4 linked regions of the Homo sapiens genome follow. The protein of the gene in region 1 purifies or fractionates together with the protein of each later gene. This does not show direct contact. Each region holds a gene or a part of one and is shown in the gene's direction. Other genes may lie near its edges.

Evidence for each region.
Region 2: the proteins of TMPRSS11A (region 1) and RSPRY1 purify together in Homo sapiens (affinity purification with mass spectrometry; 3 studies listed by BioGRID and IntAct, with this or other methods). This does not show direct contact.
Region 3: the proteins of TMPRSS11A (region 1) and ACADL purify together in Homo sapiens (affinity purification with mass spectrometry; 3 studies listed by BioGRID and IntAct, with this or other methods). This does not show direct contact.
Region 4: the proteins of TMPRSS11A (region 1) and PSG3 purify together in Homo sapiens (affinity purification with mass spectrometry; 3 studies listed by BioGRID and IntAct, with this or other methods). This does not show direct contact.

The regions. Positions count from the first base shown.
Region 1 is NC_000004.12:67,918,476-67,925,512, reverse strand, and holds part of TMPRSS11A (transmembrane protease serine 11A), read left to right. Parts: intron 1-1,346; coding exon 1,347-1,385; intron 1,386-2,586; coding exon 2,587-2,758; intron 2,759-6,280; coding exon 6,281-6,540; intron 6,541-7,037. UniProt on the Homo sapiens protein: Probable serine protease which may play a role in cellular senescence. Overexpression inhibits cell growth and induce G1 cell cycle arrest.
Region 2 is NC_000016.10:57,210,329-57,217,328, forward strand, and holds part of RSPRY1 (RING finger and SPRY domain-containing protein 1 isoform 1 precursor), read left to right. Parts: intron 1-2,643; coding exon 2,644-2,770; intron 2,771-3,559; coding exon 3,560-3,618; intron 3,619-5,778; coding exon 5,779-5,845; intron 5,846-6,575; coding exon 6,576-6,707; intron 6,708-7,000.
Region 3 is NC_000002.12:210,201,447-210,208,483, reverse strand, and holds part of ACADL (long-chain specific acyl-CoA dehydrogenase, mitochondrial precursor), read left to right. Parts: intron 1-2,687; coding exon 2,688-2,852; intron 2,853-3,801; coding exon 3,802-3,903; intron 3,904-5,039; coding exon 5,040-5,153; intron 5,154-7,037. UniProt on the Homo sapiens protein: Long-chain specific acyl-CoA dehydrogenase is one of the acyl-CoA dehydrogenases that catalyze the first step of mitochondrial fatty acid beta-oxidation, an aerobic process breaking down fatty acids into acetyl-CoA and allowing the production of energy from fats.
Region 4 is NC_000019.10:42,737,468-42,744,801, reverse strand, and holds the start of PSG3 (pregnancy-specific beta-1-glycoprotein 3 precursor), read left to right. Parts: upstream 1-4,320; 5' UTR 4,321-4,351; coding exon of another isoform or gene 4,352-4,417; coding exon 4,418-4,481; intron 4,482-5,712; coding exon 5,713-6,078; intron 6,079-7,334.

The DNA.
Region 1 (7,037 bases):
CCCCAGTGGAATTTGTAGAAAGTTAGTAGAATGAAACAATCTTATTTTGTATAATGAGGAATAGAATACTGAGAATGTGTCTGAGAAACATGGCACTGGTAGGAAAAAGTAAACAGTTTATTCTCATCTGCTCAATAAGCTAAGTCATTTTAACTTGAAAATCATCAAAATTTTCATGAAACCTTCCACCAACTTTATTTTTCCCCAGCTTTAGTAAGATATAATTGACAAATAAAAATTGTATACTGTATACAACATGATGCTTTGATACATGTATACAAGTTTAAATATTTGTGTTTCCTTAGTCAAACTCCTCACTTTTTTGGAAGTTGACAGAATTTAATCTTGGATTGTGTCCAATAACTAGCTTTTACCACTATTCAGTATATTTTGGATAAGAAACACATAACAGTTTATTCTTTAAAAAAGCAATTTTACTATTTAGGAACTGTGTTTAAAAAGCATTTTAAATATCATTTATGCAAGAGTTTTCAAGGTTTTTTCATTCTAAACCCTTTAACCAAAAAAAAAAAAAAAAAGATTTATGTGAAATTCGAAGTAAATAGAAGAGATCAAAGCAGATCTGTTCTGGCTGAGGCTGAGTTTGAGACCTGTAAGACAGTCTACTTGCCATATGGCTTGGCTGTGTCCCCACCCAAATCTCATCTCGAATTGTAGCCCCCATAATTCCCACATGTTGTGAGAGGGACCTGGTGGGAGATAAATTAAATCATGGGTGCAGTTTCCCCCATACTGTTCTATGGTAGTGAATGAGATCTGATGGTTTTATAAGAGGCTTCCCCTTTCACTTGGCTCACATTCTCTGACTTGCTTGCCACCATGTAAGACATGCCTTTTGCCTTCCTCCATGATTGTGAGGCCTCCCCAGCCACATGGAACTCTGAGTCCATTAAACCTCTTTTTCTTTATAAATTACCCAGTCTCAGATATGTCTTTATCAGCAGTGTGAAAACAAACTAATATAACCTGTTTCCTCTGTCCCATTTATCCATCTTCTGAAGTGGAATGCAAAGAAGCTTTACCCCGAACTGCTGGAAAACCATAGTTCTCTATTAATACAAACTATTTGTGGGCTTTAGTCATCCACTATTTGTGCCTTACTCACCCATTGCTTGTGATAGTATCCACCTAATTAGAGGCTGCCTATAAGTCTCTACAAAAACTGTACACAGATGTTGTTATATCAGATAGCCATTCTCCTAATTAATCTATATGTTCAACTGTCTAGAATCCATATATGGTCAGTATCCTCTGATTATTCCTGGTCATTGAGACCAACCAGGAAAATATCAAATTATCACTATTTGTTTTATCTTCTTTTTCAGCAATGAGCTCATCAACAGGGGAGTTAACTGTCCAAGCAAGTAAGTCAAGTTAGCTTATATAAACAAGTTCAATTTTCACATCAGAAAGGACATTTTCAAATATTTGCTCATACTTGCCCATCTGTCCTCCAGATTTTCTTTGAGAGATAATAACTATTTGTACGATAGATTTAAATACATTTTTTTTCTAACTCATGGACTGATCTTTTAGTCATGTTCAAGAAAAAAATTGCCATGGTAACCTTCTGGGGCAATTTGAAGAAAGCATTTATTTTTGATTGGGAATATTGGACTTGTTTTTCTAATTTTTAAAAATGCCATAAAATGTACTTTCTGCTACAAAATAAAATAATAAGAAAGTAATCAATAGGAAGGACATAAAACCCATTGTCTGTGACTGACAATTTGTCTGTGAAATATGCTAAGGTCAGGAGTTCGAGACCAGCCTGACCAACATGGAGAAGAAAACCCATCTCTATTAAAAATACAAAAATTAGCCAGGTGCGGTGGCAGGTGCCTGTAGTCCCAGCTACTTGGGAGGCTGAGGCAGGAGAATCACTTGAACCTGGGAGGCAGAGGTTGCAGTGAGCCAAGATTGCACCACTGCACTCCAGCCTCAGCGACAGAGTGAGACTCCATCTCAAAAAAGAAGAAAAAAATATGCTTAATAGATTCATCTTAATCGCTAACAGTGGCTTCATTAAATCACTTCAAATCACTGTGGCCTAAATTTTGAAAGATTTTACAAAAAACAGTGATGAATTTGAGCAATGATGTTCATGCATTTGCCTCTGTGACTTGCAAACACCCTAAGTATTTTTATCCATGTGTTTATTCATTCAACAATATCTTTTAACATCTACCAAGTGCCAGAAATTAGACCAGGAGTTGGTGGTACCATTGTGAATAAAACATGATCCCTGCTCTAAAATTAGAATTCCAAAGTAGAGAAAGATATAAATAAATCAGGAAGTATGAAAATAATGTGATTAATGCTATGACAGAGGAAGTGCATAGTGCTATGAGAGTTGATCAGAGAGTCAGCTAACCTGTTCTCACACAGTAAGAAAGTGAACCCTGAAATGTGAGAGAGAAGAGGCCATGAATCCAGTGACAGGTGGGGTAAGTGTCCTGGGCAGGAGGAGTAGTATACGAAAATGTCTTCAGGCAAGTAAGAATGGGGTCATTTCCTGTAATTACAAGATGTTTCTTATAACTTAATGATCTCATCTTTTTTCAGGTTGTGGTAAACGAGTTGTTCCATTAAACGTCAACAGAATAGCATCTGGAGTCATTGCACCCAAGGCGGCCTGGCCTTGGCAAGCTTCCCTTCAGTATGATAACATCCATCAGTGTGGGGCCACCTTGATTAGTAACACATGGCTTGTCACTGCAGCACACTGCTTCCAGAAGTAAGTTATTGACCTTAAGTTAGAACCCACTTCTGCTAAAAAGCCCTGAGTTTTGTCATATTCTTGGTAACAATTAATGTCTCAAATATTACTGAAGTAAAATAAGAAAAAGTTATTTCAGGTTCTTTTCTAAAATAATGTTACACTTGCATACTTAATCAGAAATTTGATGGGAATAAGTAACAGTCATTATCCTAGTATCCATCAATCATTTCCTCAAAGTTTTTAATAAGGAAACTGTGTAAAGAAATCAGAACTATTTTGTGACATCCTAACACAAAATATTCACTAATAACATGTACCATTAATCTTTTGTCAAACAATGCTCTCCACTTAAAACTAGTGTCTGTTTCTGCCAAACACTTGGGCCAGTCTCATACTGATCTTAAATAATCAAACTAATTCCAAAGTAAAATGGAAATTTTCAATAAATGCCGGAAGTTGGTAACCGTGATGATGGAGAACTGCAGATCAAATTTAGAGCATTGACATATGAAGATCTGTGGAATCAGAACAGTTTACAACCAAAATGAGAGATTGCTAGCATGATAAAGACAGGCACTTCAAAAGAGATTCCTCGGAGTATCAAAGGATTCATAGAGGCCCTTGGGCCACTCAATGTGACCTTCCCATAATAGAGCATCTCTTCACAATAGTGACACAAAAGACAAAGCTGAAGTGAAGAATAGCAAATTGTGCTATCCTATAATTGTTTCTGAATGCATACATTTTATTAAATATATGATTAAATGACTTTTTATAACTTTTAATCTTACTTTTCAAGATAATAACCAGTCATTTTTATCACTATTACATTTAGAATTTTAGATTTGTTTCTAAGTAGATTAACTGTATCGCCTTTCTTCTTCATTGCCAATTATTACAGTAATAACAAAGACTTCTTGAGTATCTCTATATAATAGGTGGCAGCAGGATTTAGTGGGAAAAATATGTCCCAGGCAGTTGGAGAGCTGGGCAAATTATTGAACCTTAGTGTATTAGGTAATAGATAGGCTAGATCTTTTCACATTCTTTTTGACCTATAAAATTCTAACTTTTGTTACTATAATAAATTTCATTTGCCTAGGAGCATAAATCTTTATAGAGACTCTTAATATTCCAAAGAATATACATATTAAGAATCTAGGCTTGGCATGGTGGCTCATGCCTGTAATCCCAGCATTTTGGGAGGCCGAGGCAAGAGGACCACTTGAGCTCAGGAGTTCAAGACCAGCTTGGGCAAGATAGTGAAACCCCATTGGGCATGGTGGTGCCTACCTATCATCCCAGCTACTTGGGAGGCTAACGCAGGAGGATCCCTTAAGCCCAGGAGTTTGAGGCTCCTGCAAGCTATGATTGCACCACTGCACTCCAGCCTGAGTGACAATGCAAGACCCCATCTTAAAAAAATAGTAATATATTTTTAAAAATAATCTACATAAATTCTTAATGTTTGAAAGATGTGAGAGCTCAGTAAGCTGATATATTAGAAAGCCAGAAATCCCTTATGCTGGTGTCTGGTTTTTCAAAGTAATGGGAAACTTACTTTGCCAAAGTTAGCCATTTTTGTGGTAGATAGTTCTATTTTTGCAAATATCTTTATAGCATTGAACACCAAATCTATACTCTATTAACTTCTACCATCAATATTTGTTTTTCTTTTAATCTGGAACAACAGGAACCAATTTTATTTCTTCATTCATATAACAGCTATTCTTTAGTTTCTCTTTTTCAGACCAAACATAAAATGAGGGAGAATATCCAAACCATAAGTGAAAATAAATATCATTACTGTGAGCTTTAGTTTGCTAAGGATAATGACCTCCAGCCCTATCCATGTCCCTGCAAAGGGCATGATTTTGTTCTTTTTATGGCTGCATAGCATTCCATGGTGTATGTATACCACATTTTCTTTATCCAGTCTATCACTAATGGGCATTTAGGTTGATTCTATGTCTTTGCTATACCGAAGAGTGCTAGAGGGAGAGGATCAGGAAAAATAACTAATGGGTACTAGGCTTAATACCTGGGTGATGAAATAATATGTACAACAAAACCCCATGACACAAGTTTACCTGTGTAACAAACCTGCACATGTAACCCTGAACTTTGAAAAAAGTATATATATGCACACACATATATATGCATACATATATATGTGTGTATATATATGCATATATGTGTGTGTGTATATATAAAAAAAAATATATATATATATATATATATAATTACCTCATTTTTCCAGAACCAACTTCCAGATGCCCTACCACATTGGTTCTTATTCTCTGAACATTCGAGACTTTGTCAGTGTCTTCCTTAAAATATGCTTCCAATAACTAAATACACCAAGACAGATGTGTGACTAGTGTCACACATAACAAAATAAAGCAGGAAGTCTTCTGAAAAATACAAATAATGTAAATTGGTGGGAGACAGTGTTTTATAAAGGGAAGAGCAGAGAGAGGCAGGCAGATATGTGATGTGAATCAAATAGTTTAACCTATCCAGGCTTTATTTTCCTTAAGTATAAAACACAGTCTTTACTAGATGATCTTTCATTGCTACTAAATGATTTTTCCGATTCCTGTATGTACCATAATCCACCCATTGCCCAAGCCCACAAGCTAGAAGTCAACCGCATTTACCACATTTGATCATCTCTCAAAGGACTATGCAGTCATCTAATAGACTTTACCACATCCATTCTTGACCTTCAAGAATCTACTCCCCAGAAAGAACCAACATGTTTTTTAAAAATGTAAATGAGACTACATTATTCTCTGGCTTAATTATCCAGTAGATTCCCATATCACTTCAATAAAATTTAAGCACTTTATCATGACCTATAAAACACTCTAAAATCTAGTCCCTGCTTACCTCTCCAAGCTCACCCCCAACCATTCTTTCCCTTGTGTTCTGACTGCAGCCCATCCAACCCAAGACCTTGGGATTTTTGCCTGGAAACTTGTTTCCCTCATCTCCTCACACTGACCCTCTTTTACTATGTCTTAGCCCAAATGCGTTATCAAAATAATCATAATGACCTGTTAGTACTCTATTCCGTTACCCTATTTTATTTTGTTCATAGCCTTTATCAATGTTTAAGATTATTTATCTATTTGTTTGCTTGCTTTGATCCTTTTCCTTCTCTGGAATCTTATACTCCTGTGAGCAGGCACCTTAGGTCCTGTTCATCACTTTATCCCCAGCAGTTCAGATAAGGCTCAGCACACAGATGCTCAGTAAATATTTGTGGAAGGGATAAATGAATGATATTTTATGTGTATTACAGTTCTAAAATTCAATAGTTTTGTATTAAATATCAGTTCTAATATGGCATTTATATGATTTTATCTTTCAAAACATTAGCAATAGATTATATTTAAATGATAAAAGAAAACTATAACTGCAGCCAAGTATTCTCAGGATTGTATTTCTCTTATATTAGCCTAAATGCAATTAATCTAGCTCATATACTTTGGGCAGCTTATATATATTCTGTTAATTTCTAACCTTTTCCAGGTATAAAAATCCACATCAATGGACTGTTAGTTTTGGAACAAAAATCAACCCTCCCTTAATGAAAAGAAATGTCAGAAGATTTATTATCCATGAGAAGTACCGCTCTGCAGCAAGAGAGTACGACATTGCTGTTGTGCAGGTCTCTTCCAGAGTCACCTTTTCGGATGACATACGCCAGATTTGTTTGCCAGAAGCCTCTGCATCCTTCCAACCAAATTTGACTGTCCACATCACAGGATTTGGAGCACTTTACTATGGTGGTGGGTATCTCAGGATAGCTAACAGAGCGCTAAGCCCTGTCTAAGGCAATGTGATTTCATCTCCATCAATATTATCCTGACAGCCATTTCCACACAGTCTGGTTGGATTAGTTAGGGTTCTTACTTTGTGTGACAGAAATTCAATTCACATTAACCAGTGCAGAATAAAAAACAAAGAAACAAAAACTTCCACAAATTTGGCTCATGTAATTTGGAAGTCAAAAAAGTGTAGTAAGTTTCACTTCAGACACAGGGGTTTATATGATGTCATCTGGCTCTGTGTCTCTGAATTTGAATTTTTTGCCCCTTCTTTTCTCTATATTGTCTTCATTCAGAGGGATGCTAGCTTCACCTAGTGTCAGAGGTGGCTAACAACACCTCAACACATCATCCTCAACAAAGAAAAAATACATAGAAAGGAATATTTATTTCTTTTCTTTGCCAGAATTCACATTAATTTCTATTGTTCCAGCTGTGTCTAGGAGGACTCAGATTGA
Region 2 (7,000 bases), on another chromosome or scaffold:
CTTGGCTTCTCAAAGTGTTGGGATTATACGTGTAAGCCACTGTGCCCAGCCTAGGTTAAAATTTTTTAAATGTTAAAAATAGAAGCATTTAAGGCTGGGCGCGGTGGTTCACGCCTGTAATCCTAGCACTTTGGGAGGCTGAGGTGGGTGGATCACCTGAGGTCAGGAGTTCGAGACCAGCCTGAACAGCATGGTGAAACCCCGTCTCTACTAAAATACCCCGTCTCTACTAAAAATCAGCCGGGAGTGGTGGCAGGCACCTGTAATCCCAGTACTCAGGAGGCTGAGGCACGAGAATTGTTTGAACCTGGGAGGCAATGGTTGCAGTGAGCTGAGATTGTGCTACTGCACTCCAGCCTGGGCGACAAAGCGAAACTCTGTCTCAAAAAAAAAAAAAGAAGCATTTAGGTTGGGCGCAGTGGCTCACACTTGTAATCTCAACACTTTGGGAGGCCAAAGCAGGCAGATTGTTTGAGTCCAGGAGTTCAAGACCAGCCTGGCAACATGGTGAAACCCTGTTTCTACAAAAAAATCCAAAAGTTAACAGGGTAACGTGGTGCATGCCTATAGTCCCAGCTGCTCAGGAGGCTGAGGTGGGAGGATCACTTGCAATCTGGAGGTCGAGATTGCAGTGAGACAAGATGGCGTTATTGCACTCCAGCCTGGTTAAAAAAAGAAGTATTTGTATCTCAGGTGGCGATCTTTATTCAGAAGCTAGAAGAGAATGTTGAGTTGCTTCGCTGATTTTCTTATCTTTCTCTAAGCAATTTCCTCATAACAAAAGTTTTAAGAATGTTTTTTATTAAGAGGAAAAACTGGGCTGAATGTACTGGCTCATGCCTGTGATCCCTGCACTTTGGGAGACCAAGGCAGGAGGATCAGTTAAGCTCAGGAGTTTGATACCAGCCTGAACAACATAGTGAGACCTTGTCTCTGTTAAAAAAAAAAAAAAAAAAGAAAGCCAGGCACGGTGGCTCATGCCTGTAATCCCAACACTTTGGGAGGCCAAGGCAGACAGATCACTTGAGGTCAGGAGTTCAAGACCAGCCTGGCCAACATGGTGAAACCTCATCTCTACTAAAAATACAAAAATTAGCCAGCACGATGGCGTGCACCTGTAATCCCAGCTACTTAGGAGGCTGAGGCAGGAGAATCACTTGAACTCGGAAGGTGGAGGCTGCAGTGAGCTGAGATTGCACCACTGCACTTCAGCCTGGGCGACAGAGTGAGACTCCATCTCAACAACAACAACAAAAAAAAGTTAAAACTGAAAGCACTTTTGAATCTTACTCAAATGTATTAATGATTAGTGTAACATTGGTTATCCTTTACATAGAACAAAAGCATCGAACTTTCATTGCTTTCCCATGTGTTTTACAGAGTCCTTTTTTTTTTTCTTTTTTTCTTCTTTTGGATTCTGGCATCTTTCATTTTTAAGATGGAGTCTTGCTATGTTGCCCAGACTGGTCTCAAACTCCTGGGCTCAAGCATCCTCCCACCTTGGCCTCCCAAAGTGCTGGGATTACAGGCATGAGCCACTGTGCCCAGCCTCAATTCTGGCATTTTCATTCATCTGTTTAAGCCCAGTGCAGAAAAACATTGTGGACGGAAGGGGAAAGTCTTTAGCGTAGTCACCAATGAATTGACCTTTGCCTAGGCTTATAAGAGCTGCCTGTTTCAATTTGCCTTCAACTCTGTTGGGGCAGGGTGCAGTGGTTCATGCCTATAATCCCAAAACTTTTGGGGGCTGAAGCAGGAGGATCACTTAAGGCCAGGAGTTCAAGACCAGCCTGGGCAACATAATGAGATTCCCATCTCTACAGAAAATTAAAATTATCTGGGCACTGTGACATGTGCCGGTAGTCCCAGCTACGAGGGAGGCTGAAGTGGGAGGATCACTTGAGCCCAGGAGGTAAAGGCTACAGTGAGCCATGATCACTTCACTGCACAGCAGCCTGGGAAACAGAGCAAGAGCAAAAAGAAAAGAAGAAAACTCTGCTGGGATTTGTTTTTGCTTAGTAAAACTTTTTTTAAAGTAACTTTTTACTTCAACATCACCAGCCTTTAATGTTTTCATAATGGCATCTGAGTGGGTTTAATCTGTTTAGTGATTCAAGAATATGTAGCATATATTTGATACAACTTAAGCATTCTGAATGAAGTGGAATCTAGTAAGTCATGTAAGGAGACTTTCAGGTTGATCAGATATTTCCCATCAATGATATCATTAGGGTACATTGCATAATTTTTATATGGTCATTCTGAGTTTATTTAACACCTGGTTATAGCTCCCCCCACCCCCCTGAGACGGAGCCTTGCTCTGTCGTCCAGGCTGGAGTGCAGTGGCACGATCTCGGCTCACTGCAACCTCTACCTCCCAGGTTCAAGTGATTCTCCTGCCTAAGCCTCCTGAGTAGCTGGGATTACAGGCGCGCACCACCACACCTGGCTAATTTTTGTATTCTTAGTAGAGATGGGGTTTCACCATGTTGGCCAGGCTGGTGTCGAACTCTTGACCTTGTGGTCCGCCCGCCTCGGCCTCCCAAAGTGCTGGTTATAGCTTTTGTCTCAAAAAAAAAATGAGCCTGGGAAAACAACCTGTGTAGTATATGGGTCAAACCCACTTGTACTTTTTTGTTTTAGGATGCACTCCAGAAATTGACTGAAATTCTCAATTTAAATGGAGAAGTAGCTTGCCAGGACTCAAGCCATCCTGCCAAACACAGGAACACATCTGCAGTCCTAGGCTGCTTGGCCGAGAAACTAGCAGGTAACTTTGGGACACTCCACAGTGGAAGATCTTAAGTTGTTTGACATTAAAGGGAAATTTGTACTGTATGTCTTTGATCAAACTGCTATACCAGAAAGAAATCTCTTAAAAATGATATTGAGAGACATAGACTAACTGGAAGAAAATTACTGAAAGGCTACAGAGGTGAATGCAATTTAATTTAGCTTTGTGGATTTTCAGGGGAAATTTTAAAAGAAAAAAGTTGTGCTTATTTGCTTTAAGAATAAGGAGCGAGGAAAAGAAAAAAGGGAGAAAAGCTAAATTCAGCATAACAAAGATATGTATGTGTGTATACAATATATAATTTGCATATATACACACTTTATAAAGTTTAGCTCGATTATGAAGACATACAAGGTAGAGGGAGAGGAAAAGGAACTTCTGGTTGGAGCAGTTCCTGAGAAGCAGGTATTTAATTTGTTTATGAATGTTACCCATTTTAAGAAAGTTAACAGCAAAGTACAGGGGCATAGCTCAGCTACTTACATCACGTAATGTGGAAGAAACAATGGATTAGAAATCAGAACATGTGGCTACTGGTTTGGACTCTCCCATGTGCTTGCCAAGTGCCCTGGAGTTAGTTGCTTAATTCTGTGGGCTCACTTGCTTAACTGTGAAATGGAGCTAGTACTATTTTCTACCTCAGAGCAGGAGGCTTTAATAAGATAATGTGCATGAAAGAGTTCTACCAAAACAATTTGATTGTTACCAGTGATTTAAAATAATCTGGCATTTTAATTATATCAAGTGTTTGTTGTATTTGTCTAGGTCCTGCAAGTATAGGTTTACTTAGCCCAGGAATACTGGAATACTTGCTACAGTGTCTGGTAAGTGAGACATCAAAACTATTTATTCTTAGTCATCTAGAAGTGGGCATCATCTAGAACTGTGCATTTTCTCAAATTGCTGGCATAGCCACTGGCACAGAGAATGGAATCAATTGTAAATTTTATTTGCAGGTGTTTCCCGAGTGCTTATTTATTCCCTCCTATGTTTAAAAAAGAGAGTGGGATTGGAATTTATCCCAACCAGCAAAAACAGCTGAGTTAGTCTGGTTTTAAATTTAGTCATAAGATAGCTGCTATGATTGGCTCTTTTGCATGTTCCTTGAGTTTGCCAAATGGTAATAGGGACCTCCACAGTAGAAACAATTACATGGCGTTCCAAGCCAGGAGGCCATCAAGTCAGATTCCCAGTATATATAAATCTCTACTCCTCCCTGCCCTCCCCCTCACTGCTACTCTTAAAACTGTTGTCACTGGAATATTTAATATATTGTCTATGAAGCTTCTGGTTTGCTGAGGCTGTGCCCTCAGATCTCTCATAGTTCTGGCCTGTGGTCTTGAATGGTCTGTATTTTTAAAAGTTATTTTTGTAGGCCTAGTGAGCATTGGCCCTTTTCAAAACTCTGGTCTGAAAACCCTTATTTGTCAATACCCACTGATACGTGCTTAAAACACTTACCTTACTCTCAATGAGCACTCTGGGGATACAACATGGCAGTCCTATGATTTCAAGAGGTTTATTGGTTAGTTGAGGAAACAAAACTACTCAGACAAGGTAATTAGCCTCCATTTTATCACAGGATGTGATCATGGGAGAAAGTACTTCATCAAGACTAAATGAGGGCCGGGCACGGTGGCTCATGCCTATAAGCCCGGCATTTTGGGAGGCTGAGGTGGGCTGGTCACCTGAGGTCAGGAGTTCAAGACCAGCCTGGCCAACATGGCGAAACCTGGTCCCTACTAAAAATACAAAAATTAGCTGGGCATGGTGGCATGTGTGTGTAGTCCCAGCTACTCAGGAGGCTGAGGCAGGAATTCACTTGAACCCAGAAGGCAGAGATTACAGTTAGCTGAGATCTCACCACTGCCCTCCAGCCTGGGCGACAGAGCGAGACTCCATCTCAAAAAAAAAAAAAGACTAAATGAGAAGGTGGGTGGTATGGGTAATGAGAGCCGGGGTGTCATGAAAGTCAGACTTCCTGATGAAGGTGGACCCTCAGCTGGGTCATGCTATAGATGAGGATTTTATTGTGCCCAGAGGAGGGAAAAAATTGGTTTCTTAGCTAAGGGAACATCACAGGCAGAAGTCCAGAGACAGAGAATTGTCTGATGAGAGAAGACAGTGTTCAGAGATAGGACACAGACTGAGTAGCCAGCTAGAAAGGGTTTAGGGCCTGAAAAGCCAGGCAGAGGGATTTAGATGGATATGAGAAGAAATAGAATGCTGAATAGGCTTTCCAGCAGCAGGGATGGTGGTTATGTGAGGTTTCCAGAACTTAGGAGGTACCAGGGAAGTCAGTGGGAATCATCTGATGTTCTGGAGCTCCTCTGGTGGCTCCCAATGTAGCAGTAGGGAAAGCACAGCTATGAGAAGGTGTCATGTTCAACAGATAGACCTTTCCTTAAAGGGGAACTCATGTGACATGAGCTTAAATGTAACTAAAAGAGTTCACTTGTTGCTTTCTCCTGTCTACCATCAGCATTTGTAGAATTCCTTTCAGGGAACAGCTTAAAAACTGAGCCATTAATTGTTAATTTAATTATTTATAATTTTGCAACTTGTTAGTGATAAGTGGTTCTTTTTAGGATTCTAAGTAAAATATCATTTTTAGTTTATAATTCTAGGTTTCTGTTTGGCTTGCATAAATGAATGTGAGAATGAATATTTTATTTAACAAAGCCCTAATGTAAGTTTTATTAAGTAAAATAACATAGTGTATTTAACAGGATACTTTTGAAATTTCCAAATCTATAAATTAACCTAGTGACTTTAAGAAAAAAATACAAGATTAAGAGAGCCTGTCCAGTTCATTACTAACATTATTAGCCAAATGGATAATTGAGAACTTGAATGAATGAAACTTTTCTGACCACTCGAAAAAACATCTAGCACATATTGGGCAAGGAAATGAAACTGATAACTTGCCACCTCTGCAGGGGAATGATTTTTTTTTTTTTTTTTTATCTTTTGTTGTTTTTCAGAAGTTACAGTCCCACCCCACAGTCATGCTTTTTGCACTTATCGCACTGGAAAAGTTTGCACAGACAAGTAGGTATAGTGACTTCTTGCACTAATGATCTTCTGTATTGGTTGTTAAAAATTTTATTTTTCTTAGTTACTGGATAAGCCTACACTTTGAACCCCATCAGATGGGCATACATTCTGTTTTCATCTGGATAGACACGTTAAAGCCAATGAAGTATAACAGGGACAAAGGCAAGGATTTTCTCACCTAAGAATCAAAACTTGGTAACCATGTTTACTCACTTTTTATAGCCAAAAATTTAGTGATGTGATTGCTAGTTTCTAGAAAAAAGTATGGTGGCTCTTGCCCATAATCCCAGCACTTTGGGAAGCTAAGGCCAGAGCATTGCTTCAGGCCAGGAATTCGAGACCAGGGTGGGCAGCATAGCAAGACTCAATCTCTACAAAAAATTTTAAAAAATCAGCCAGGCATGGTGGCATGCACCTATGTTCCTAGCTACTTGGGATGCTGAGGCGGGGGGATCACTTGAGCCCAGTAGTTCAAGGTTACAGTGATCCATAGTTGTGCCACTGCACTCCAGCCTAGGCAACAGAGTGAGACCCTGTGACTAAAAAAAAGGAAAACAAAATAGTCAAAGCTCTTTGGCTATGTTTTCCCTAGAAATTTTAATTGAAGTCTAATCTAGTCTCCAATTCTTTAATTGCCTCTTCCCCCTCCTTAGCAATACTAATTTGCTGAGCAAATCATTCTACCCTTTCATTGTTAATTCAAGGATTATGTCTTTCCAAACAGGTGAAAATAAATTGACTATTTCTGAATCCAGTATTAGTGACCGGCTTGTCACATTGGAGTCCTGGGCTAATGATCCTGATTATCTGAAACGTCAAGTTGGTTTCTGTGCCCAGTGGAGCTTAGACAATCTCTGTAAGTGGGAGTTGTCCTTTATTAAAATGTCCGTTTCCATTTCCAGACTCATTTCTTTCATAGGCTCACTGGTCTTCCTTTTGCAATGGTAAGTATGAGTCCTCATAAGGACCTCTACTGGCAGGTTGGATATATTCTAGCAGAAAAGTATCCTAGAGACCCTTTAGACAAGAATTACATGGTATGCTTCTAATTTCAGCATTTTCCTGTTCAAAAACCTTTACTGGCACCCAGTTTCCTGCTGCATCAAAGCCCTTAATTATATGGCACTGTCTAACCAGCTCTTTCCAACA
Region 3 (7,037 bases), on another chromosome or scaffold:
GTCATAATTAGGAAACAAACTGAGAAAGTCCACTTGCAAGGAAAATTCTCATATAACTCTATTAGAAAGGGGGATCCACCATGGTGTTTAAACTCACTTTAGGTCGCACTGTTGTAGAAATGGTTCAGATTTTATTAATCCTTTGCTATAATTACTTCCAATAAGAACTTCTGGAGAACTCCACTTGATTTACCAAATTGAGCTCAGCATATTAAAATGAATAGTTTTTGCCCAATGAATTTCTCCTCCCTTCCTTTCTATTCCATTGTTTATTTATTATCTGTAGTTAAAACATGTATGAGACCATTTGAGAGCATACTGTAGATACTAATTCCTGGATGCTGTGTGATGCAAAACAAACAAAAAAGCACTCATAGCATTTCAACTGTGGCAGCTATACAGACATTAGGAACTAGACAGAAAGGTAGGAGCTTGGTAGACTTATAAGGTTTTTGAGCAAGGGAGTCGTGTAATGGAGCAATACTGTTGAAAAAATATTTTTGCCAAGTTGTATAGAATTTTTTTGAGGAACATCTTTTTCAAAATATATTTTTAAAACATCCTTTGGCCTCCTCTGTGCCAAAAAGAATTCTAAGCACTTAAGATAGATATATGAATAGGAAATGGCTATGAGCTCCTAGTAAGGAGGCACGTTGATGATCTTTTATTATTGTGTCACCTATAACCATACTGCCACCACTATATTCATTTGCTGTTGTGTAGACAACACTAACATTATTTGCCCATTTTTCATTATTTGTATGTATCAGTGCTGTGCATTTTAGGTGATGGGAGTAACCAACATCATTTTATACCCCTACTATTTCAAAGAGAGAGAGATAAAAACAGATCATTTTGGTAAATTTGAGGTGTTGTAGGACCGCTTAACCCAGCCTGGAGAATTTGAGACCTTTTGGCCAATCTGATGTCTAAACCACCCAGGATGAGTACAATTCATTGCAGCAGAGTTGGGAAAGGGCCTTTCCCAAGTAGCAGAAACAAGATTTTCAAAGACTCATAGGTCAGGAAGACCTCGCAACGTGATGGACAGCAAGTAGTTTAGTAGAGCTGACTGAAGAAGAGGAAATTGGGGAAAGTGGGACAAGCAATAAGCCAGGTAAGGAGAGGTAAGCTAGTGCCAGTTTGTGATAAGTTTTCTATTTCCTGCTAAAGGTTTTGAATTTATCCTGAAGCCTATTAGGAGCTATTCAAAAATTTTTAAGTGTGAAGGTGATATGATCAGATTGCATTTAGAAAAATCTCTTTGACATCATGATGAATGATACAGCTGTAGAGAGATCAGTTGTAGGAACTTAAGAAATGATGAGGGCTGGAAATAAGGTAATTACAATAGACTTGAAAGGAAGTGAATAAATTCCAAAAGTATTAAGATGGGTTAGAAAAAACTAGATGCTGAATTGAATATGAAGCAGGATGATAATGTAATTTATTGAAGCATTCATTGAGATAGGGAAATAGGTTGATAATCAGGATTGGATAGGAGTAGGGGTGGGAAGGAATATGTCCTGCCCATGAGTCATCAGGTGGAACTATCCAGAAGCAAGTACTTATTCAGGTCCAGGTCCTATCAAGAAATGTGGCTTACCAGGAGTTTGAGGCTGCAAAGAGCTATGGTCACACCACTGCACTCCAGCCTGGGTGAGAGAGACCCTGTCTCTAAAAAAAAGAAAAGAAACATGGCTTAAATAAAGATTTGGAGACATCAGCATGTAGAGGGTGACTCAAGCCGTGAAAATGATTGAGATGAACCAGGAAAGATGCAGAATGAGAAGATAATTATTAATATTTGCTCTGAGTATACTGTTTTCTGTATCAATATCATCTGATAATCCCTCTCATTTGGCTTGTCATTTTTCCCTCCTTAATCATAGTTTCCTATTTAGACCATTTTAAAGGAAGCAGGATATCAATTACAAAAATCAAAAATAGTCCTTTTCAAAAACTGATAAATCTGAGAATAAATAATATAGTGCCATTTACAGCAGATTTTCTTTCTTTTTATTTTTCTTTTATTTTCTTTTCTTTTTTTCTAGAGACAGGGTCTCACTCTGTCACCCAGGTTGGGGTGCAGTGGTACAATCATAACTCACTGTAACCTCAAACTCCTGGACTCAAGCGATCCTCCTGCCTCAGCTTCCTGAGTAGCTTGGACTATATATAGGTGCACACTACCACATCAGCTAATTTTTAATTTTTTTGTCTCTACTATTTTGGCAAGGCTGGTCTTGAACTCCTGAGCTCAAATGATCCTCTTGCCTCGGCCTCCCAAAGTGCTGGGGTTACAGGTGTGAGCCACCGGGCCCGGCCAGATTTTCTTTTCTTATCAGTGGCTTCCTTCTAAAATACAATTTATCATCATAATAGACAATTTGGTTTCATTTTTAAAGAACATAATAATCTCTGTTTATTATTATTATGTATAATATTAATAGTGAAAAGAAAATCTATAGGTTTCATTCTTTGAAGCATTAAGTAATTTTTCCCCTGATCCTTGATAACATCATGTGTGAATAATCAACTTTGCAGATATTTGGGTAGGGTACAGAGAGAGGTATCAAGCATGTCTTGTCTGTTTTAGTTTTCTGTAATATACTTTCTCCCAATCATAACTTGCACATAGAATTGAATTATCATGGTGCATTAATAATGTACTTGGGGTTTTGCAGGTGTTCATCAGTAATGGGTCATTAAGTGATGTTGTGATTGTAGTTGCGGTCACAAATCATGAAGCTCCCTCCCCTGCCCATGGTATTAGCCTTTTTCTGGTGGAAAATGGAATGAAAGGATTTATCAAGGGACGAAAGCTACATAAAATGGGATTAAAAGCCCAGGTGAGTGATAATGTAAATCATATTCAGATACTAATTGAGTTTACTGTTAATCAGATAGGAGACTTACATAGAGGATTACATGTGGCACAATTTTATTTCCTATGCTGAATTCCTAAAATATGCTTTTCTGATGTGGTAATGAGATTTATTCTCATTTATACCACTCTATCTTTCTGATGGTCAGCAATAGAAATGAATCAAGGTATTTTGAATATCTGTTTTAGAAATGGCAAAATTAACTGCATGGTAACAAGCCATCTATTTGTAAAATGCATTAAAGAAAAATATGAAATAAAAATAAAGTGTGGCCAGGCACAGTGGCTCACACCTGTAATCCCAGCACTTTGGGAGGCTGAGGCCAGCGGATCACCTGAGGTCAGGAGTTCAAGACCAGCCTGGTCAATATGGTGAAACCCCATCTCTACTAATAATAAAAAATTAGCTGGGTGTGGTGGCAGGCACCTGTAGTCTCAGCTACTCGGGAGGCTGAGGCAGGAGAATCACTTGAACCCAGGAGGCAGAGGTTGCAGTGAGCCAAGATCACGCCACTGCACTCCAGCCTGGGCAACAGAATGAGACTCTGTCTCAAAAAAAATAAAACAAACAAACAAAAAAAACCCAGAAAATGTTCTTTCTATACATTACCAAAAATGCATGTTTTGCTTAATATGTATTAGAAATCCTTAGTTCCAAGTACCTTGAGAACTGGACAGTATTAGAGCTGGAATGATAGTGTATTGCAGTAGGAAAGCCACAAGGTTTAGAATCAGATGGCTGTGGGTTCAAATCCCTGGTTTACCACTTACTAGTTATGTTCATTAACTACTCCAACTTGGCTTCCAATTTGTGTTTTGTTTTTTTGGAAAAAATAATATTCACTTCAATATTCACTGGGTTATTGGAAGATTTAAATGAGACCATTCTCTACATTTTTTGTATGGTCTCTTAGGATACCGCAGAACTATTCTTTGAAGATATACGGTTGCCAGCTAGTGCCCTACTTGGAGAAGAGAATAAAGGCTTCTATTACATCATGAAAGAGCTTCCACAGGTCAGAAGTGTTTAAAGATTCCATCTTTTGACTGAATAATGAATTGGAATAGAATAATATAGAAACATGTTATTTCTATATTATGCATTCAAATTTATACATGCAAAACTTGTGAAATAGCTAATCATTTGAGTATTAAAGTTGTAATAAAAGTATGAGTTTTATAGGGTAGTTAAGTAAATAACTGAACTCAGTAATATCCAATCAAAGCTTATAAAGTAAGTAGGAAAAACAGATATTTCAGTTCTGTGATTCCTTCTTAGAATGATTTTAGCTTCTTAACTACAATTCAAAAACTTTTAGCTCTTTGTAAGGAAATGTCTTGCAAAACATTTGATAGTTTGCCAGTTTTTAAATAATAACTGTGAATCAAAGGGAAAAGTATAAAATTCAGACTGAAAAGTTTTAGCCACATAGGGTCAGTCCCTAAACAGCTATGGTTTTAAAGTATGGTTGACAAGTGATTATTGAGCCTCAGATGCCAGTGTAAGGGGGTACTCCTGCCTAGTGACTGCCATGAAAAACACCAGCATGATGGAATCAAACTGACTAAGGCTACTTTTACATTAATAGGTAGAATTTAACTTATGTGCTTTAAGATGTTTATTTCCACAGATATATTGAGTCATACAGTGTGCAGAGATTAATAAATTGAAATAAGCAACTGGGGATTGTTTTTAACTCACATGTGAGTAAAGAGAAGAAAAATTAAATTGCATATATATAATGAAGACAGTCATTCATGGGCATGGTGTTATGTGACTGTTGTCCCAGCTACTCGGAAGGCTGAGGTGGGAGGATCACTTGAGCCCTGGAATTCCAGGATGTAATGAACTATGATTGTGCAACTGTACTCCATTTTTGGCAACAGAGTGAGACTTTGTCTCTTAAAAATTTAAAAAGATTATAAAAAAATAAAGGTAGTCATTCATAAAAATAAAGGATTTGCTTTAGAAAGTGATTAGAGATATGTCAAAAGAATCTCATAAATCTGTTTTCTTATAAGGAGTTAAGATATAAATTAATCTTTATGAGTTTATTATAAAGATAATTTATAGGATTTATCGTAATTGAAATTGTGTGAAAATCACTTGCATAATTAGAGTAATGTTTAAGACCTAATTTTTGTGTTATAGGAAAGGCTGTTAATTGCTGATGTGGCAATTTCAGCTAGTGAATTCATGTTTGAAGAAACCAGGAACTATGTTAAACAAAGAAAAGCTTTTGGCAAAACAGTTGCTCACCTACAGGTAAGCTTGTCACTGTGGTTTAGTATTAGATGGTATCAGTTTACTAATCTGAAATGGCCTGGGGTAAATAGAAGTTTGGAGTTATTTTCATGTAAGGTGATATTAGAAACCATGGAAGTGGATGAGATCACTAAGGAGAGATAGTAGAGAGTAAGACAGGAGTGGTCTTAGGACACAGTCCTTGAGGAAGACTACAAGATTTAAAGGTAGAATTCATATTTGGAATTCATATTGTCTGAAAAGGAGGAGCCTGTAAGATGACTGAGAATGAATAAACAGAAAGGAGAAAGCAAATCAGGAGAGCTTTGTCACAGAAGCTGGAAGGAAAGAGGGCTTCATGGAGTAGGGAGTGGGATCAATTGCTGCTTAGGGGAAAAATAAGACGAAGGGCAAAGAGTGTTCATTGAATACAATGATATGGAGATTATTTAGTAAGAGCCATTAATGGAGGTGGAGGGTGACACACCCGATGAGTAGATAGAAATGAGGACGTAAAACAATACTGATGGTAGGCAACTCTTTCCTGAGTTTGGCTGTGAATGGTAGTTGAGAGAAAGGGTGGTAAGCGAAGAGGGGAGGGGAAGGAGATTTGAGATTCAAGGGAGATATTTGGGAGTTATTAATTTTTTGTCGTTATTTTTAGGATGGGAATGCGGGTGCATATTTTAATACCTGTATATAAAGAAAGGATTTAATAAAGAGGGAAAGGTTGTAGATAGGAAGGAAATAATCAACTGCGTAAGGTCTTTGAGAAAGGGTGAGTTTGTGGATGCTGACACATGGAAAGATAGGCCTTCCCATCAACAGGAGAGGGATTCCTTCATTTGCACAGGAAGAAAGGAGCAAAGGACATCTATGAGTTCAGACAGATACATCACTCTGTTGGTAGAAAACTACAAAAGTTCTTTATAGAAGACTTCTATTTCTTTAAATAACGTGGCCAGGCACACTGACTCACGCCTGTAATCTCAGCACTTTGGGAAGTTGAGGCAGGCAGATCACTTGAGGTCAGGAGTTCGAGACTAGCGTGGCCAACATGGTGAAACCCTGTCTCTACTAAAAATACAAAAATTAGCCAGGCATGGTGGTGCACACCTCTAATCCCAGCTACTCGGGAGGCTGAGGCAGGAGAATCACTTGAACCCAGGAGGTAGAGGTTGCAGTGAGCCAAGATCGCACCACTGCACTCCATCCAGCCTGGGCTACAGAACAAGACTCCATCTCAAAAATAAACAAATAAATAAATAAATAACAATAGAGAAAGTCCTTGAAAGACAGGTGAGTGAAGGAGGCATGGAGGTGTTGCAGAAGGGTGAGGGAGGTATGAAATATCTTCTTCAGAATGAGAAACTAAACTACTTTCTGCTTTTTGTGTATCAATCAGCTTTATGATAAGAGTTTAGCTTCCCAGGTACAAACATAGAGAAAAGACAGATGATTGTGTTTACCTAGGATTGAGTTTTCCCAGGAACTTGAGGGTTTTTGCAAAAGAACTCAGTATATAGTGGCCGCAGTCACTAAATATGCTAATTAAATTTTAGACCCTATAGTTTCTTTTTAAATGAAGGAATAGTTTATAATTCCTTCATGTGGTCATCAAATTGGCAAAACATCTCACCAGCAAAAAACCTGGAGTTGGGATTTGACTTAAAAATTTTTAAGTAGAATGACTGGCTGAAAGGCTTTGTGAAGGGAAAGGTAGAAATGAAACAACTTGGTGGCTTTTCAGAACCAGCATTCTAGAAATTATGTTCAAGTGTGGTTTATGTCCTAACACAGCTACTTGAATCTCCGTAGTCTAGTCGTGTTCTCTCTCTCAAAAATAGTTTCCTATTTGTAAATATATAAAATGTATTTGATTTGCAAAATTGTAAAATTTTGACT
Region 4 (7,334 bases), on another chromosome or scaffold:
ACAAACAACCCCATCAAAAAGTGGGTGAAGGACATGAACAGAAACTTCTCAACAGAAGACATTTATGCAGCCAAAAAACACATGAAAAAATGCTCACCATCACTGGCCATCAGAGAAATGCAAATCAAAACCACAATGAGATACCATCTCACACCACTTAGAATGGCAATCATTAAAAAGGCAGGAAACAACAGGTGCTGGAGAGGATGTGGAGAAATAGGAAGACTTTTACACTGCTGGTGGGACTGTAAACTAGTTCAACCATTGTGGAAGTCAATGTGGCGATTCTGGAACTAGAAATACCATTTGACCCAGCCATCCTATTACTGGGTATATACCCAAAGGACTATAAATCACGCTGCTATAAAGACACATACACACGTATGTATATTGCAGCACTATTCACAATAGCAAAGACTTGGAACCAACCAAAATGTCAAACAATGATAGACTGGATTAAGAAAATGTGGCACATATACACCATGGAATACTATGCAGCCATAAAAAATGATGAGTTCATGTCCTTTGTAGGGACATGGATGAAATTGGAAATCATCATTCTCATAAACTATCGCAAGAACAAAAAACCAAACACCGCATATTCTCACTCACAAGTGGGAATTGAACAATGAGAACACATGGACACAGGAAGGGGAACATCACACTCTGGGGACTGTTGTGTGGTGGGGGGAGGGGGGAGGGATAGCTTTAGGAGATATACCTAATGCTAAATGACGAGTTAATGGGTGCAGCACAACAGCATGGCACATGCATACATATGTAACAAACCTGCACATTGTGCACATGTACCCTAAAACTTAAAGTATAATAATAAAAAAAAGCTAATCATAGAATTCTCATTTGAAACAACATCTATTCCTAGGTATATACCCAAAGAATTAAATCCAGGGACTCAAACAGGTACTTGCATGGGAATGTTCATTGCAGCATTATTCACAAAAGATAAAATATGAAAACAATCCAAGTGTTCATCAACACATGAATAAACAAATATGGTGACACATACAACAGAATGATAATCTGCCATAAAGAGGAAGGAAGCTCTGACACCCGCTGGAACATGCATGGACTTTGGAAACATTATGCTAAGTGAAATATGTCAGAAACAAAATAACATAATTGTATAATTCCATTTATATGAAGCATCAAGAATAGGCAAATTCATAGAGACAGAGTAGAGAAGATCAAGGTCTAAGGTGGAACATACAGGGAGTTATTGTTTAAAAGATACAAAGTTTCAGTTTAAAATGATAAAAATTTTCTAGGAAAAATACTGGTGATGGTAATTTAACACTGTGTAAGTGGTTAATTTCACTTGATTATGCATTTTAAAGTGGTTAAAATAGCACATTATTCACAGAACTGTGAAAAATAGATTTCTATTATTTAATTCACCCAGGCTAAGGTGTCTGTTATGGCAGCTGAAGCCCATGAATACATCATCTGACCCAGTGTTTCAATGAAAGGCATCAGATTTTCAATCAAGTTAGCTGGAAGCTCCTGTCCCCAGCAGAACCAGACGCCCCAAAACAAGAGCTCCAGCAGGGGCTCAACCAGCACAGGTCCCATAAGGCAGCCTCAATATCAGACCCTGGATGGCATGTGAGGCCACAGTGATACAACCACAACGTGAAAGTGTAAGTATTTTTACTACTTACAGACACTGGGGAGCACTTGGCACACCTGGAGACCACAGACACAGAGGTCAGTGAGCCCATGGAGAGAGGAGAGAAGAGACCGGTAAGCCAATGGCTTTATTAAGTCCAGGGTGTTATCTGACAGGTTTCCAGCAGGGAGCTTTAATGGATGTGTTCAAAGCAAGCAGCAAACACTGGGACCAGGGGCTCACGCTGTGACTGAGAGGTGGTCACTTTAAATGTGAGGGCAAATGTCAGAATTATCAGTTTAAAGAAAGCAGCTGGAGAGAGGGAAACCCAGCACACCAAGCAGGAGAGATGCCTCTAAGATTTTATCTCTGCACACCAACTGGAGCCACCTGAACCAGATACAGTATTGAAACTGCATTGGTGACCAAGCCCTGCCTCTGATTTGAGGCAAATAAACTTACACCATAAAAGATGAATGACAAGGCAACATGACACTATGAGCATCATGACATCCAGGGACACCAGCAGGGTGTGGTACTGTGCCCTGGAGTCAGAATCCTGGGTTCTGGTCCCTGGGAGTGAGAAAATGAAAATGACTTGTCCTTGCCCCCCTGACATTGATCTTCCCACCCTGCTGCTCCCTCTTCTTCTCCCAAGCCCATGTGCACTGCTCAGCCCCAGACATCACTGCCCCCAGGGTATACACAGTGCTGCCTACTGCACACAAACACAAACTCACAGAAGGTGACAAAAATCTGCATTTGGGACATCTGATTGTGAAAGAGGGAGAACAGTGAACATAGAGCCACACAGACTGGGACTCACGGGGCTGGAAGGTGAAGGAGCTATAACATAACATATGTGTGACCTCGTGTGAAGTGTGCAGATCCATGTGGAATAAAACATGCAGCCTGGCCTGGGATTGCTGCCGTTCACATTTCCCTCCCTGTCCACCAGAGGGGGACAGAGTCCCTCCCAGCCTGGAGCCTTCCCAGGGGATGCCAACCGCCCTCAACGGAACCCACAGCCCAGCAGGGTCCACCCTCACCAGGGTCACTTCGGCCCAAGTCCTCAGCGCCCTCCATGCTCCCCACACGGACTCTGTCAGCTCCTCCCTGACCTGGGGGCCGCCAACCTAACACCACTCCCCCTGCAGGGAGCTCCTCCCCACACACCTGCTCCTTCCCTGGGCCCAGCTAAAGGCATCTCCCAGGGCAGTGCTGGTGCACGCGACACTACACTGGGTGCTTTCCCCTCGTGGCCTCCCTCCATCCTCATCAACTCGTTCTGTCACTGCTCCCTAAATGCCTGCCCCTGCTCCATCTGTCCTGTTCTCTGGGGCATCCCAGGCCAAGCCTAGCACTGACACAGAACAGTGGCTGCCTGAGGGCCCACAGCCTCCCCGGGAATCAGCCAGGCACCCTGTGTCCTGCCTGCTCCCTGCACCCCGGGGGGCTCAGAGCACGTGTGATGCTCACACACAGGCACCATCCGGGATGTGGCCACCTACCCCCAGCTGTCCCTTGGGAAGACAGACCTCTCCTGTGTGCTTGCTGGGAGAAGGGGGATGTTATTGCTCTTTGCTCCCAGAACACAACTCACCCCCACACGCCCACTCAGGTGTGAGCAACGTCCCTCCAGACAGGCTCTCTGGCCACTACCTGTTCCTCCTCTACACACAGCAGCTTGGCCAGGTCAAAAACCTCAGGACAGACCCCTGGGTATGTCGGCACATGGATGGCTGAGCCCATCATGGCCACAGAGTAAGTTGGGATGAATCTCTCCAGCTCTGAACCCCTGCTCTGTCCCAGGCTCCCCCTCCTGCATCTCAATGAGCCATGTCCCCCGGGGTTCCTGGGTAACTCCCCACTTCCTCCTGCACCACCACGGGGAAGGTGTGGTGACCACAGGACAATAAGCTGGGCAGAGAAGAGAGGACATCAAAGATGGTCAGGAAGAACATGAGAAACCATGAGCTCCAGCTCAGCCGCCAGACCCCAGGGAGCCATAGAGTGACCGAGAACTGTCCCTTTGACTATGGGACTCACAGCCCCCCACTGAGCAACCAGCACAGGCCTCTCCTCACAAGAGGCATGAGAGATTCATCCTGCACACCTCCAGGAAGGACAGTTTCCTCTGGGACACCCAGGTCCTGAATGTCCATCCTTGGAAGCTGCAGCCAAGCTAGACACGATTAGAAAAAGGAAGGTTCCCTCTCATCAGGCAACACACAGCTCACCCACAGCACAATGGGGTGTCACTGTGACAGGGACCTGGTTCAGCTCCAGCCTCCTGCACTGAAGGGGAGAGCCAGATGGGGATGAAAGAGGCCAAAGGGCATGAATGTGCACCCCGACCCAGAGCCATGGGGACAGCAGGAGGCTGAGGCCCAGGACTCTGCTTGCCCAACCTGCAGGGTATGTTTCTGACTGTGTGGGTCTGTGTGTGTCTCTTCTGTGTGTGTCTGTGTGTGTGTGTGTCTGCACAAAGTGTGTGATGAGGCTTGGTGAAAGAATCACTGCTGAAAAAGGCAGAGGCCTCCACAATTCCCAGGGACCTGAAACACAGACAAAAGGAAAAACAGGAGGGACAAGGAGGCAGGACTGAGAGAGGAGGGGACAGAGAGGTGTCCTGGGCCTGACCCCGCCCATGAACCTGAGAAGTGCTCCTGCCCCGGGAAGAGGCTCAGCGCAGAAGGAGGAAGGACAGCACAGCTGAGAGCCATGCTCAGGAAGTTTCTGGATCCTAGGCTCAGCTCCACAGAGGAGAACACGCAGGCAGCAGAGACCATGGGGCCCCTCTCAGCCCCTCCCTGCACACAGCGCATCACCTGGAAGGGGCTCCTGCTCACAGGTGAGGAGAGAACTTCCTGGGAGAGGACAGGAGGAGGAAGCAGAGTGACTGGATGGGGTCTCCTGGAGAGACTCCTGGGGTTCTAAAAAATAAAAGAAGCCAGCACTTAGGGAGGCTGAGGAGGGTGGATCACGAGATCAGGAGTTCAAGATCAGTCTGGCCAACACAGTGAAGCCCTGTCTCTACTAAAAATACAAAAATTTAACCAGATATTGTGGTGTGCTCCAGTAATCCTAGCTACCCGGGAGGCTGAGGCAGGAGAATCACGTGAACCCGGGAGGAAGAAATTGCAGTGAGCCGAGATAGTGCCACTGCACGCCAGCCTGGGCGACAGTACAAGACTCCGTCTCAAAAAAAAAAAAGAATGGAAAGAAAAAAGAAAAAAAGGAAAGAAGTCTCTGTTGGAGCCTGGATAGGGGAAAATACACCCAAGAGGGACAGGGGTCAAAACAGGAAAGTCACAGGAACCAGAATTGGTAAGAGGTAGGAAAATCTTAAGTGTTCTGTTTTCCTGATTAATCATCAGGGGCCACCACATTTTGAAAAATGATAATAATAACTATATCAGATGACACTTCAAATAAAAATATAAGCAGGGCATGAAACACTGTCCTCAGCAAAAAAACCTCAACAACTGGGGGAAGAAAAAACACCCAGGGCATGGAGGGCCCTGAGAACTCTCACATCTACAGGAGTCTGCAGCCTGTTCCAGGCACTGGGGTGCAAAGAAGATCACAAAAGTCCCTGTCCTCACGGAGCTCACGCTGTCATGGGGGGGAAGACAGACATGCAAAGAGTTCTAGAATGTGAGGTCAGGTGTTGAGAAGAACCCTGGAGGGAGCAGAGCAGGGAAAGGTCAGAAAGGGAAGACCCAGGGTCTCTGAAGGAGGCGTCAGGAAAGAAGTCTAAGGATGCCCTGATGTGAGCAGGACCTGAGGGCAGTGTGGAGGGGGCCGTGCGGACCCCTGGGGAAGAGGATTCCAAACAGAAAAATGCCAAGGTCAGAAGTGTTGAAGGAATGGGGGTCATGTTGCTGACCTTCACCTAGTAGGAGAGTAGGACACAAACACATATACACATGCCCCTTTTGTGTGTGTGTGTGTGTTTGTATGTGTGTGTGTGTGTCTCTTCAAAGCTGAGGATTGAAGAGACCTTCTCAGGACCCAGGGCCACATCTTTTCACCCCAATGCATAGGTCTCAATATTGACTGATGCTCTCTCCACCTCCTAGCATTACTTTTAAACTTCTGGAACTTGCCTACCACTGCCCAAGTCACGATTGAAGCCGAGCCAACCAAAGTTTCCAAGGGGAAGGACGTTCTTCTACTTGTCCACAATTTGCCCCAGAATCTTGCTGGCTACATCTGGTACAAAGGGCAAATGAAGGACCTCTACCATTACATTACATCATACGTAGTAGATGGTCAAATAATTATATATGGGCCTGCATACAGTGGACGAGAAACAGTATATTCCAATGCATCCCTGCTGATCCAGAATGTCACCCGGGAGGACGCAGGATCCTACACCTTACACATCGTAAAGCGAGGTGATGGGACTAGAGGAGAAACTGGACATTTCACCTTCACCTTATACCGTGAGTGACTCCACGTGATCACTGGGTGTTGGGGGATGGGGTCTTTACTTCACACACAAAGGATTGTCAGGCCTGGATTGTGCCTGTGTCCCTCTCTGCATTATGTCCCATGCTGGGGTTTGGGCATTTAGTGCAGGACACACACAGAAGAGACAAATTTCAACAGATCAGAATTCCTTTCCCGCATCCAGACCCTGCAGACACTCGCTGCAGAGGAAGGACAGTCTGATGGGGGGACTCAGCAGGAGGAGATCAGTCTCAGCCAAGCACCTCATGCTCTCTTCATAAATTTGACCCTGAGAAAGACCCTGGCAAACTGAGTAGGGCTTGGCCTCAGGGGCCCCATGAAATACTCTCAGAGAAGCTCAGCCCTAGAAGCCTCACCCCCAGAACCATGTCCCTAAATCCTTGCTCCAGATAAATCTGAGGAGCCTGTACTGGGGCTGGGTTGTCGCTTCTTGGGCAGGGCTTACTGGGACCAAGGATTTACCAGCTGTCAGAGGACTGTGTCTCCTGGAGCTGTTCACCAGCCAGGGCTCAGCCCTCAGAGCCTCATCTGGGCAAGGACAGAGCTTTCTTCACCTGACACTCAGAGTGGAGAGGACAGAAAGACAAGCTTTGTAGGCCATCAGACAACTGCCTTAGGAGGCTTAGGCCAGTCCATAGAAAGTCTAATGTCCCCAGAAGCAGAAACAGAGGAGAGAAGATATACCAGGTAGCAGCTTGTCCACAGGCATCTGACATAAAGGTGCTTTCTCATGGAAGCAAATTAATAATAAATGCTGTTTGTGTGAAACCTCCACTGTGCCAAGAATTAGGTCACGTGACTGTGAATCATTTAACATTTATTCACAGATAGCATGAAAAGCCACAGTCCATTTGCCATTTAGCTTATTTGTTTGAGAGAAAACTGAGGCACAGGAAGCCACAGTCACTGAACCAGAGTCACACAAACACAAAGGGGAGATCAGGGTCACATGAGGTGTGTCTGGAGCCAAAGGCCCACCCTCTCCTCCACCAGAAGTGAGGGCTTACTGGGTTCCAATCACCCTATAGTCATTTATTGGCTCAAATCCTCTCTTCTTAGGCATCCAAACCTCAGAGGAGTGAGAGCAAACGGTCAACTGATTAGTCTGTATTCCAGAACTAAATCACCTACCTCAACCGTCAGAGTCAGTGGAAAAAACATGTCCAGGCCTCCCCCTCAGATCTTAACCACCATCACTGAACCTGAAATCCTGTGTTTCCCAAAGTGT